2 linked regions of the Homo sapiens genome follow. Changing the gene in region 1 together with any one later gene gives a genetic interaction. Each region holds a gene or a part of one and is shown on either strand. Other genes may lie near its edges.

Region 1 (3,500 bases):
AGCTGGTGCCTGTCCTCCATGGGACATTGGACACTTACGTGTTTTCAGGAGCTGGGGGCCCCTACCTAAGCCTGGGAACGTAGAGCTAAGGTCCTGGGGCTAGGGACAAGCAGGCTAGGGTGTGGGCCTGACTAAGGTAGGGCTCTATTCCCCTTCAGAGCCCCACCTGTCCCTGAGTCATGCTAGAAACACCTGGCAGCCTTCCGGCTCGGGCCAAGCCAAGCCGATTTCCTGCCTCAAGTGAGGACAAAATCCCAGTCCCCACCCACCCCAAGCTGTAGGCACAAGGTGTATGGGGTTTCGAGGCTCAGCTCCACATCTACTTTTGCCTCCAGGGCTACTAATCAGTGCTGAGGTCTCAGGACTGGGTTAAGCCTCTGTGGTCTGATGGAGCCTTCAGAGGCTCCTGCTTCGAGGAGTGCCCTCCGGGCTGGTGAGAGAGAGTCCTAAGCACCTAGGGCTGGCTACTGAGCCCCGTCTGCACCTCGCACTCAGCTCCAACACCGCGAGTTCATACCCTGGTGTACTGGTTTCCCAGAGCTTCCACAGTCCTCCCCTGGAGCGTGATTGCAGCCCCCAAAAACACCCCCTTGCTAAAAGCAGGGGAGAGGTTAGTACCCCCTAGCTTCCAGAACTTAGTTCTGGCACCCAGGCTGTAGGGGTTTGGTTTATCCCTTTTGTACCCTGAAGGGGGGTATAGGAAGCAGCCAGGAGTACAGGCAGACCTTTGGAGTCTAGGGAGAAGGACCATGTCCCCAACCTTGTGCTGGCCAATTAACTCCAGCATTCAGCCCCTTATGCAAGTGGGGAAACCGAAGCCCAGAGGAGACAGGGTTTGCTGAAGTGCACACAGAGAGTCAGAGAAGAGCCAGCAGGGGGCAGGAGAAGACTCTTGCGGAGCTGAGACTTCCAACTGGGCTCTCCTCTTGAGGGTCTATGATGCCTTGGACCAGAGACCAAACCTCTTGAGCCTGTTTCCTCATCTGTGAGATGTACGGGGTGGGCCAGGCACCGTGGCTCATGCCTGTAATCCCAGCACTCTGGGAGACCAAGGCGGACTAATCACAAGGTCAGGAGTTCGAGACCAGCCTGGCCAACATCGTGAAACCCCCATCTCTACTAAAAATACAAAAAATTAGCCAGGGGTGGTGGCGAGCACCTGTAATCCCAGCTACTCGGGAGGCTGAGGCAGGAGAATCTCTTGAACCCGGGAGGTGTTGCAGTGAGCTGAGATCACACCATTGCCCTCCAGCCCCAGCAACAGTGTGAGACTCCGTCTCAAAAAAAAAAAAAAAAAAAAAAAAAAAAAAAAAGATGTACGGGGTGGTTGTGAGGATGGAATGGGGGTAACTCACCATCAGGATGGGCATGGCAGGGTGGGGCAGGGAGAATGAGGAGTGGACCTTCCAGCCTGGGCCTTCTCCCTGCCCTTGCTACACTGAGAGCCCTGTGGGGGCAATGTGGGATGGTAACCGGCAGGCCCAGGGCCTTCTCCAGTCAGGCCAGGTGAGGGGTGAGAGTGTTGGGCTGCTGTGGCCACTGACAAAGGCCCCAGAGGGTCGGGGCACAAGGCTGAACCCTGACTCCTTCCCTTCCCTGACCTTTCCCAGCCTGGCCTGGAAGCCCTCAGCCCCAACACCAGCTGCCGCCACTTCCCTCTGCTGGTCAGTAGCAGCTTCTCACGTGTGGACCTATTCAATGGGCTGTTGGGACCAGTACAGGTCACTGCATTGTATGTGACACGCCTTGACAACGTCACAGTGGCACACATGGGCACAATGGATGGGCGTATCCTGCAGGTGGGTCCTCATCCCCACAGTCCCCTAGCCCTGGGTCCTTGTCTCCATCCCCATTTTGCTCACATCTGACCTGTCCTAGGTGGAGCTGGTCAGGTCACTAAACTACTTGCTGTATGTGTCCAACTTCTCACTGGGTGACAGTGGGCAGCCCGTGCAGCGGGATGTCAGTCGTCTTGGGGACCACCTACTCTTTGCCTCTGGGGACCAGGTGAGGTGGGCAGGGGCAGGGCCTGGGGCCAGGGTTGTGGGATCACAGACTCTCCATCCAATCCAGGGAGGCATTGACATACAGGCCCTACCACCCTAGCCTACTGTGTACCGGGAGGGTCTATAGGGCCCAATCTCTCCCTCCAGGCACCCCTGAGTCACCTGTCTTTCACCCACAGGTTTTCCAGGTACCTATCCAAGGCCCTGGCTGCCGCCACTTCCTGACCTGTGGGCGTTGCCTAAGGGCATGGCATTTCATGGGCTGTGGCTGGTGTGGGAACATGTGCGGCCAGCAGAAGGAGTGTCCTGGCTCCTGGCAACAGGACCACTGCCCACCTAAGCTTACTGAGGTATGGCTTCCCTGGCAGGGCACAGGTAAGAGTGGGACAGGCTGGGCCTGGGGTGGTGGTCAGCAAGTCTTGATCACAATTTTTCTCAGGTCTGGGGGGTGTCCTTCATATCTACAAGGAGGGCATTCTTGTCAGAGGGGATGCCACATGCAAAGACTTGGAGGCAGGAAAGTGCTTGAATGCAAGTGACTCCAAATGGCTGGAGCGTGGGGAAGGCAAGGGGTATGGCAGGAGACTTTGGGGAAGCAGGTGGGGCTGAGAGAGCCCAACCCCACATGAGGACTCAGGCTGTTTCCCCCATTTCAGTTCCACCCCCACAGTGGACCTCTAAGGGGCAGTACAAGGCTGACCCTGTGTGGCTCCAACTTCTACCTTCACCCTTCTGGTCTGGTGCCTGAGGGAACCCATCAGGTCACTGTGGGCCAAAGTCCCTGCCGGCCACTGCCCAAGGACAGCTCAAAACTCAGGTACAATCTGGTCCCTCCCCTCCCTTTCCCTGAAGGGGGAAACCAAGCAGCCCCTTCCCCATGAGACCCTGTTCTCTGCTTATCAGAGGCAAGGGGGGATGGGGGAAGCTGCAGTGGTTCTGACTGCTTTTTGAGAGTCAAAAAGGTCTCTGTCCCTTTTTGAGCTTTCATGTGCCCTTCCTGTCTGTTCACTCATGGACCAGCCAAGGTTAATCTCTGCCCCACCAGAACCTTCCTTCCATGGAGGGAGGCATGGGTGGAGAAATGCCATTCTCTGGCTCAGAGGAGCCCTGTGGCTTGTGGCAGGCATGCATCTAGGCCTGTGTAATTCCTGGCTGACCTCAGGGGTTCCCCTGGTGCCCCAGACCAGTGCCCCGGAAAGACTTTGTAGAGGAGTTTGAGTGTGAACTGGAGCCCTTGGGCACCCAGGCAGTGGGGCCTACCAACGTCAGCCTCACCGTGACTAACATGCCACCGGGCAAGCACTTCCGGGTAGACGGCACCTCCGTGCTGAGAGGCTTCTCTTTCATGGTGAGGCTACCTTGCCCTGTCTGTGCCCTTGGCCAGTGCATGGTACGGGAAGGGAGGGGCTTGGAGTGGAGGACCTGCCTAAGCCACCTCTATGTCCTCTTAGGAGCCAGTGCTGATAGCAGTGCAACCCCTCTTTGGCCCACGGG
Region 2 (3,146 bases), on another chromosome or scaffold:
GGCACGCGCCGCAGGAGGCTGGGACTGGTCCAGTTTGTACTGTCGATAGTTTTAGATAAAGTATTTATCATTTTTTAAAAAGTATAAACAATTCTGACTTATTTTATTCCATCTAAGTGGTAAAAGGCAACTTATTGAGAAATATAAATATCTATATATGAGAGCTCTATATAAAGACACGTGTCTGCAGGGCGGGCCCGCCAGCGGATTCGCCACAGCCTGCCCCGGTGCTATCTCGTCCCCAGGCCCGCGCCTGCCTCCACCCGCTTGGTGCTGACTAGACGCTGACAACGCCGAACCCCGTTCTCGGAAACGCCGCCCGGCCGGCTCCCCCGACGCGCTGCTCCCGTACCAAAGGCAGGCCCGTCGCCACCACATTCCTCGGAGGCCTCCCCGCGGCCTGAGCCCCTTCCTGAGCGCCCTGGCGCCTGCCCTGAGCTCTTCACCTTTACCCCGGCACTGTGAACCCCCAGACTGTTCACCCTCCGGGGCGTGGGTTGCGCCCTTGCATGTGAAGGGGCCTGCGCGGTGACGCAGCTGGCCATGTGCTGCGCGATGGTGCTGTGAGGACGGCGCGGGCACGTTGAACAAGTGCATTTACTTTTGTATTTCTCGGCTGTCCATGGCTCGCAGCATGCCCTGCGATGCGGGGCAGGCCTGTCGTGGGTCCCTTGGTGTTTCTGTACAGGAGAGAGTCACACTAATGAGTGGCAGTATTTTATAGAGATGTGATGAGAATTTATAAATTTCATAGATTTGACAGCTTTTATTTTTAGATGGTATAATGCACAGTGAAGAGGAAAGAAAAGCGAGGGGAAAAAACCTTATTTATTCAAACAGTGCACAAAATGGCCCCAGCGTCAGCCCCGACCCTAGACCCCTCAGTTGCAGCTCCCAGCAGCCCAGACAGAGCTGCCGGCGCCCCTGCCTGCCCCACATCCCTTCCTGTCAGGGCCACGCCTGGCACCCATCCCTTGGAGCCTGTGCTGGTTCTCCCAGCTGCTGTGGGTGTGCTGGGGCCAGGGTGCACTGCTGAAACCTGGCCTCTCTGGCCCTAGGCCCCAGGGTGACGTCGGCCCCCCACTCTGCAGCCTTGGCGGGTGCCTGGGACTGGGTGTGGAAGGAGAGGAGCTGAGGCCGGGGTGTAGCAGGCAGGCAGGGCCACTCCAGTGCTTCTGGAGCCCTGAGCAGTCAGGGCCTGGGTTGTCTGAGCAGTGGTGGCTCTGTGCCCTCCCTGGAGGATGGGATCTGGGAGTCTGAGCTCCCCGCATCTGGCCCTGGGCTGTGTGGCACTTGCTGAGCCCACCTTCTCAAGTGCTTGCTCCTGTGAGATGGCATCGGGGAGCCCCTTCCCCAAGGTGCCACAGATCCACCCTCCAGGGAGCTGCCAGCCCTGTGTTCTGGTTCCCAAGGGCAGGATGGACACACGTCACATCCCTACCACGTGGCCTCCAAAGGGAGCCACGGAGGAAAGGCTTCTGTGGTTGCTAGGTGGGGGAGTCCTGTGTGGGAGGGCCTGAAGACCCCTGCTTGTGCCTGGTGAGGGGGGTGCTGCCTCCCCCAGCCCCCAACAACCTCTCAGACCCCCACCCTCCAACATAGCTGAGTTCTGAAGATGGTGCTCCGGACCTGTCCTCTTAAGTGGTGCCCAGTGCCCTCCCCACCCCACGTTGGTGCTCTCAGCTAGAAGGTGCTGTGCCTCTGCCTGAGCCCCAAGCCCCGAGCCTGGCCTTCAGGACAGGCAGCCTGCTCTGTGTCGCCACGGGCCGGATACGCCACAGGGTTGATGGCAGAGACGGCCGAGTCCCTGGTCTAGAACAAGACACATTCTTTAAACACTGTATTACTTCTGCCTCCCTCTAGGTGACAGTGGCAGTCCGGGTGCCATCACGGGTCCTGCAGATGGCCATGCAGGGCTCCTGCCCACGCAGGCCACCGTATGTTCAGGACACGCACTGGGTCTCAGAGCCACTGGCCCAGGCAGAAGTCTCCTTGAGCCCACTGGGTCATATGCGTGTCACCACACGTGAACTAGTGTGGTGGCTGCCTGCGGACACCCTCCTGTTCTGAGCCCTGGGCCTGTGTTCTTCTCAGACACTCCCAGACTGAGGGGTGGTGTGTGGCGGGTGGCAGGGTGGCTGTGGAGACTGGGGATCTGGAGCCTGGTGCTGGCACCTGGCCTGAGTTTCCGTGGGCAGCTGGCGGGGACCTGTGCTGCTGCTGCTGACTGTGGGTGGGCGGGCGGCGCCTGGGAGTGGCTCTTGCTCAGGAATTGATAGGAACCCTAAAAACTAGGATACCCCCTCCTCGGCCCATGAGGCACGCACAGTGACTTATTTAAGACTTCCCCCTTAATTTATCTGCCCCCAGGATGCGTCAGTCTGTTCAGTGGTCAGCAGGCCCCCCACCCCCCGCCGACTGCCCTCGCCATCGTGGTCAGACCCCCCTCCCAACACAACACGCTGCTGGTCTGTGTCAGCCTTTGTAACGTGGGAGGCTCTGCCGTGTCTTCCGGGTGAACTGTATTTGGATTGCGCGCATTGTCACGGTCCGCCCCTGGGCTGCAGGCGCCCCTTCCTCTGGGCACCCCTGCATTCTGCATCCCCACCTCTAGACGCTGTAATAAACAGACTGTTTTCACTCGGACCTGGTGTGAATGGCAGCCTTTCTTCCAGGTGGCATGAGGCGTCTCCTGGCGGCCAGTGAGAGGCCCCGGCTAGTGTGTCATCGCCGAAACGGGGAGTGGAGGGCCTAGGGGTGCTCCTAGCAGAAGCTCCGGGGGCTGACACCAGGACACCCTGGCCTTGGGGAGGCTTATGAGGGCACCAGGCCACAGGCAAGGGGAGGCTTATGAGGGCACCAGGCCACAGGCAAAGTGCCTTTTGATGAACGGAAAACCAGATCTGCGACCCCAATGACATCGGCAAAGTCCTTTTCACATCAGATGGACCAAAGCCCGCCCAGGCCCCAGCCACACTCCGGGAGGGCCCGTGAATGCCAGAGGCAGGACCCCAGGTCACCACAGGATTCCTGATACCACACAGCAGCTCTGTTCTCCCCAGGCCTGGGTCCCAGCCTCCACCTGTCCTGGCTGGGGGTTCTAGCTCTCCCCTCAGTGCAGGAGGCCCAGCCACTGCCTCTCAGGA

Evidence for each region. A genetic interaction does not mean that the proteins touch.
Region 2: changes in MST1R (region 1) and DOT1L together harm fitness more than expected from each alone (negative genetic interaction), as found in Homo sapiens cells (one large-scale study listed by BioGRID).

Annotation. Positions count from the first base shown.
Region 1 is NC_000003.12:49,897,374-49,900,873, reverse strand, and holds part of MST1R (macrophage-stimulating protein receptor isoform 1 preproprotein), read left to right. Parts: intron 1-1,610; coding exon 1,611-1,799; intron 1,800-1,878; coding exon 1,879-2,007; intron 2,008-2,185; coding exon 2,186-2,356; intron 2,357-2,662; coding exon 2,663-2,823; intron 2,824-3,188; coding exon 3,189-3,354; intron 3,355-3,457; coding exon 3,458-3,500. UniProt on the Homo sapiens protein: Receptor tyrosine kinase that transduces signals from the extracellular matrix into the cytoplasm by binding to MST1 ligand. Regulates many physiological processes including cell survival, migration and differentiation.
Region 2 is NC_000019.10:2,229,933-2,233,078, forward strand, and holds the end of DOT1L (histone-lysine N-methyltransferase, H3 lysine-79 specific), read left to right. Parts: 3' UTR 1-230; coding exon of another isoform or gene 231-680; 3' UTR 681-2,646; downstream 2,647-3,146. Other genes in the region: PLEKHJ1 (pleckstrin homology domain-containing family J member 1), read right to left, coding at 231-680. UniProt on the Homo sapiens protein: Histone methyltransferase. Methylates 'Lys-79' of histone H3. Nucleosomes are preferred as substrate compared to free histones. Binds to DNA.